2 separate regions of the Homo sapiens genome follow, and region 1 is linked to region 2. The links come from fine-mapping of genetic effects on gene expression. A gene starts in region 2. The other region holds a variant in brackets. All regions are shown on one strand. Distances are between the middles of the regions. Region 1 overlaps SLC26A9 (solute carrier family 26 member 9). Region 2 holds the start of SLC26A9 (solute carrier family 26 member 9).

What was found. PIP is the estimated chance that this variant, and not a neighbour inherited with it, causes the effect.
Region 1: its variant is fine-mapped to the expression of SLC26A9 in esophagus mucosa (GTEx, PIP above 0.99).

What each region holds. Positions count from the first base shown.
Region 1 is chr1:205,916,014-205,918,916 of GRCh38, reverse strand. SLC26A9 (solute carrier family 26 member 9) reads left to right here. Exons shown (of 21, transcript NM_052934.4): 19 at 1-77; 20 at 1,563-1,634. Among named protein-coding and RNA genes, the nearest start is that of SLC26A9-AS1, 17 kb to the left of the region's middle. The variant G/T (reference allele first, on the strand shown) is at 1,232.
Region 2 is chr1:205,942,100-205,945,002 of GRCh38, reverse strand. SLC26A9 (solute carrier family 26 member 9) reads left to right here and starts at 1,547. Exons shown (of 21, transcript NM_052934.4): 1 at 1,547-1,638. The region is part of intron 2 of SLC26A9-AS1 (SLC26A9 and RAB7B antisense RNA 1); the gene reads right to left.

The sequences.
Region 1 (2,903 bases), 26 kb after region 2:
TTCCCAGCATACATGACGCAGTCCTCTTTGCCCAGGCAAATGCTAGAGACGTGACCCCAGGACACAACTTCCAAGGGGTAAGGTTCTTGCACCTGGGGAATCCTAGGCTCCAAGGCACTGAAATAGCAGGACCAAGAGGCATTATTAGAAAGAACACAGGAGAAGGTTTAAGTTCCAATATCAAGTCTGCCATTTCAGTTTTCTGAATCTGTTTCCTTATCTATAGAATGAGCACCATCAACTAACATTACCTACCTCTCTGCATTTTTCTTTTATTTTGTTTTAGGGTTAAATGATAATTACATCTTTTGTGTCACTTGAAAGCACTTTGTGTATTGTAAAAATTCTTTATCAATATAAGTTTTCTGGTTGCACAAACACCCAAAGCATAGTAGAGCAGGCCCACTCTGCTGGCATCGTTCCCTGCCTCCTCCTCATCTCTTTCTAAAGGGGGCTTTCGGGAAGGGAGGGGAGGGGAGTAAGCCTACCCATTTTAACTTACCGGAGCTTAGAGATTTCAGGCTGGTGAGGGATAAAGAGATTGGGTCTGAGTTTTGTCTCAGCTTTTTGACATTTAATTTACTAGCTCAGTAAGTTACAAATGGGATACAAATAACACCATCTAAAACTCCAGAAGACTGGGGAGTCAGAAAAAGCCTACCTCCTTGGGGTCCCTGCCCAGATCCCCAGTCATCTCTAGCCCTCAGGGTCCCCTCCCAGCTCAGCTCCTGCCCTTGGCCTCCCAAGACTCTTGTTGTGCCCCAGCCCTGGGTAAAAACCTCCCCTGCCCTCTGTGGGTCATAAGAAAGGCTTTTCTGGCCCTAGAGCAATGATTTGCTCTTTGCCTTAAGAGACTGATGAAGGTGAAACCATCTGTTCTAAGTGCTGAAAGACTGCCCAGGAACACACAGGGCGCTGGCTCCTGCCCTCCATGCCTAGAGGGAAACCCTGGGGAAACAACGGGCTTTCCTGCTTCGTGAATTTGTCCGCAGAGCAAAGAGGGAGATTCTGGAGGAAGCTGCATTAGTTGTTAGTGCCCTAATCATGTTCAGCTACTCTAGTTGGTATGTATACTTGATTAGTCATAGACTTATAAATAATTTATATTTTATATAATATATACTTACATATTATAGACCATTCACAGATACAAATCACACACATAAACACACACCTTTTCAACAGCATTGTGAGGGACAAAGCAGGCAAAGTGAGGCTGGTTATCAGACTT[G/T]AACAGATTAGAAAATATATTCCCAGGAGGACAGGAATTCCCCAAGGTCAGGCAGCTAGCCAATAGTTTTTCTAAGCTGAGTAAAACCTTCCCTGCCTCTAACGGCCCACAAAGGAGGGAAGACCGCGATACACACCTGTCTGGTATAAGGGGGAAGACCACAGCCGTGCTGTTTTTGTGAGGCAGGTAAGGGAAGGGGCAAGAGGATAAGTCATGTGTCAGGAAGCAGCGTCCAACCAGAGCCGGCCACCTGTCCCTTTTCCTGCCACCATGCACCAACTTTGCTGTTCAGTCACTGAAGCTCATTCTGCACTGGCTTCCTCCCTTCCAGGCTCCAGGGGATGCTGAGCTCTCCTTGTACGACTCAGAGGAGGACATTCGCAGCTACTGGGACTTAGAGCAGGTGAGCTGAGGGAAGGGGCTGTGAGGGTGGGAGCAGGGCGAAGAGGGGAAGGATGGGGTCGCTGTCAAATACAAGGCGTTCACTCAGCTGTCTCACCTCCAGCCCAGAGCAGTCACATTCAAGGCCACAAAGATTTGTGGTCATCTTTGTTTTTTTTCTTTTCCTTTTCTTTTTTTTTTTTTTTTAATTTGAGACAAAGTCTCACTCTATCACCCAGACTGGAATGCAGTGGCATGATCTCAGCTCACTGCAACCTCTGCCTCCCGGGTTCCAGAGGTTCTCCTGCCTCAGCCTCCCGAGTAGCTGGGACTTCAGGCCTGCGCCCAGCTAATTTTTGTATTTTTAGTAGAGACAGCTTTTCACCATGTTGGCTGGGCTGGTCTCGAACTTCCGATCTCAAGCAATCTGCCTGCCTCGGTCTCCTAAGTGCCTGGATTACAGGCATAAGCCACGATGCCTGGCCTTTGTTTTCATTCTTCTCACTCCCTGAAAGTTATCGTGGGGAGAGGGTGAGTCACTGGACCAAGTCCTAGAGAACCAGTATCTATTCTTATTCTCCAACACATCACCCACGTGACCCTGAGCAAGCCACATACACCCTGGGCCCTAGTTTTTATCATCTGTGAAATTAGGGGAAACATAGGTAATACCTGTCCCATCCACCACACAAGATTGGCAGGGCAGTCACTTGTTCTTTCATTAATTCAGCAGGTATTTATGGCGTACCTACTGTTTGCCTGACACAGTTCAGGATGGGCACATAGCAGTGAGCAAAACAAAGGCCTCTGCCTTTTAGAAACTTACGTTATGGTAGAATAGATGGATTCTGGGTCTACAAATGAATTATTATTGCATGTGGACAAGCCTTAAGAACTAAAAAATATGTGGCTGGGTGCAATGGTTCACACCTGTAATCCCAGCACTTTGGGAGGCTGAGGTGGGCGGACCACCTGAGGTCAGGAGTTTGAGACCAGCCTGGCCAACATGGCGAAACCCCGTCTCTACTAAAAGCACAAAAATTAGCCAGGCGTAGTGGTGCATGCCTGTAGTCCCAGCTACTCGGAAGTCTGAGGCATGAGAATCACTTGAACCTGGGAGGCAGATGTTGCAGTGAGCCGAGATCGTGCCACTGCACTCCAGCTTGGGTGACAGAGCTAGACTGTCTCAAAAACAAACAAAACAAAACCTAAAAGATATGTGGATATGAGGGATCACCATCCCCATAGGGCCCCTGGATTAACACCACCCCACCAATGCCCTGAATTAAAA
Region 2 (2,903 bases):
AGTTCACGGTGTTTGCAGAAAGACTGACAATTCCATACATAATTACCATTAATTGTGGTCAGTGTTATGAGAGTGAAGCAGAGGAAGCCAGAGGAACGAATGTGCAACATGTCAGCTAAGTCCACATAGGGGTCTGGGGAAGGGCTCCCCGAGGCAGTGTCCATGCACACATCCTTCCCTCAGCCAGGTGTCAGGGCACACTTGGGTCACTTGAATTCTGGCTCTCTTCAGCCAGTTGTCTGGCTACACCCTGACAACTCTGAGTGACCTCGGGTGTTTCCCTAGTCCCCACAAGCAATGCATCTACAAACTATCCCTTGGGTTGGGCTTGCAGACAATTCACTCTTTCATTCATTTAACAAATATTTATTGAGTCCCTATTAAGTACTGAAGCTAGCTCATTTCACCATGGGGAACTTTCGCCCCAACTTCCAGAGGTGCCTTACTGAAGCCCCCTGCACTGATTCCAGCCCACTTCAGAGCCTCTGGTTTCTTTTGGAGAGATGGGAGGACAGTTGAGGACGAGGACAGTGCAGCACTTGATGTCTCAAAGAATGGGCACCTGGTGTCGGGTAGTGACTCTCCCTCCCAGGAAGTAAATTAAGAAACTCCCCTACCCACCCTCCCAGCCCCTGTCCACAATTGCTTTCTGAGGTCCTTCCGTAGCACTCAATGGGCCTGGGATGGGCAGCTCTGCTGGCAGCAGCCGGAGCAGTGCCATGACCCAGGGAGACATTAATTCCTAGAAGCGGCAGAGGGCTGTGACTGGAGATTTGCTAGCCTTCAGGTCGCCTCTCATATAATTGTTCTAAGTCCAGTTTCTTGAGCTCTTTTATCAGATTCTAAACCCCTGTGTTCTCTTTGCACACTACCTGAGGGGCCAGGAATAATTTCCCCCATTGCACTGATGGATAGACCAAGGCACAGAGCTCACAAGCAACTTAACATTGGGGACAGAACTGGGAACCAGGTCTCCACCACAAACCAAAACCGCCTAAAGGCTCCCAGGGCCTCCCAGACATGGTTCTTCCCCTTCCTCAGGGGTGTTCAGAGGACTACTGTCTTCCCACCCCCTAGATCTCCAATCTTCAAAGCAAGCATCCCCAAGAGCACACCCCTCAGGTGGCCTCAATAGCTCCCATTGTCCAAGAGGCTCTTTGGCCTGACCCCCAGCCCCATAAGCAGCAGGACAGCAAGCTCAGAGGAGCTTGTCCTGCCTTGTCCCCCTCCTCTGCCTCGTCCCCCTCCTCCAGGGCCGCCTTGGGGGAGCCGGTGGGGCAGGAGCCCCGCTGAATGTGACCTATTGTCTTCGGGGTGGATTTAGGAAGTGCCAAGCTCCCATCACACAGCCCTGCTCCCCAGGTAAAACAAAAAAAGGGCTGTTCATTTGGGACCTTTTCCCCCTTATCTCCTTTTCCTATCTCCTCAGGCTTAGCTATGGTGTAGTGTTCAAAACCACTTCCCCTCTGAGCCAATCAGAAGCCGGGGCTCACCCCGTGGCCCTGAGGAAAAGTTATTTATAAACGCCTCCCTGGATTATTTGAGCAGAGCCCTTTCACACACCTCAGGAACACCTTTCGGCTGCCCGCTCCCCAGACACACCTGCAGCCCTGCCCAGCCGGCTTTGCTCACCCACTGGTAAGCCCCACCCAGCCCAGCCCACCCCACTGGGCTGGGGTCATCCCTGCAAGAGGGCAGTCACCAGGGGTACCGAGAGGAGGGATGACAGGAACCAACTGCCAAGCTGAGCACAAGTAGGAAGGACACTCTGGCCCCTGGAGTCTGAGAGCAGCCTCCCAGCCCTTCCCCTCTGAGGAGCCCTTTGGGTCTTCACGTCTATGTAAGGACCTGGGCTGCAAGGCTGGGCTTGACTGAGGGAGCAAGTAGGGTGAGGGTGTGGTGGTCGCCAGACCCCGAAACAGAGCGAGGCAAAGGCCTCCGAGGGAAAGGAAAATGTTAGACCTTCCTCCGCGACAGCCTTTGAAGCTGTGGGCTGCTCCTCTCCCTTTCTTTTCAAGTCTTGGAGGGAAAAGCTCTTAATGCTTGACTCACCAGCCTACTCTGCATGGCTGTCTCCCCCTCCTTCTACCGCCCAGACATCCTCCTTCACTCATGTACTTCTCCACCAGCTCGGGGAACTTAGCATGGACTACACAGAATCCCATGTGTCCCCATTAGTCCTGAGAAGTTGGAAGAGGTGGAGGGGGAGGAAACTGAGGAGTGGGAGAGGGTGAGCAAGGGACCAGCTCCATCAGGCAGGCGGGTGGGCGGTAGCTGGACCTGGGACGCCCGACTCAATGGTGAATGCTTCAACACAGAAGGGCTTGGGCCAGGACAGTGGATGGGCAGCCAGCTCTCCAGGCTCTCAGCCTCCAAACCCCTCATCCTGCAGCTCCAAGGGGTTCCAAGCCACTCTCAGGCAGTGCCCCCATTCCTCAAAACCAGCCCAGAGGGTCCCCAGCTGAGACCTAACAAAGCTTCTATTATTCCAGCATCAACTGCCCCCTTACACTTGGCCCCACGGGTCTGAGGACCAGAAGACCCTGGAGTGACGCAGCCCCCCAAGTGGGCAGACTGAGAGAGGGCTTTCCCCCTGAGTGGCTTCACTCATGCAGATGACCCTTTCTCAGAACCCCACAGTCCTCCCCCACCTCCCTCATCCTGGCCCTGGCATCCAGAACCTGGCAAGACCCTGCTTGGGCAGCATGGAGACCAGCATGGCCAAGAGCACCTCCACTGCCAGGAAGGCCTTCCCAGGCACTTCCCAGAGCTAGCCACCTGCTCTCTGAGTCTCATTTGTATAAACCCTGGGGCAGAGACGGACTCCTCTTTATCTTTTAATGCCCAGAGTCTTCCGGAGATTGGCATATACCCAGTATTCAAGAGTGCCTCTTAAACCGTAC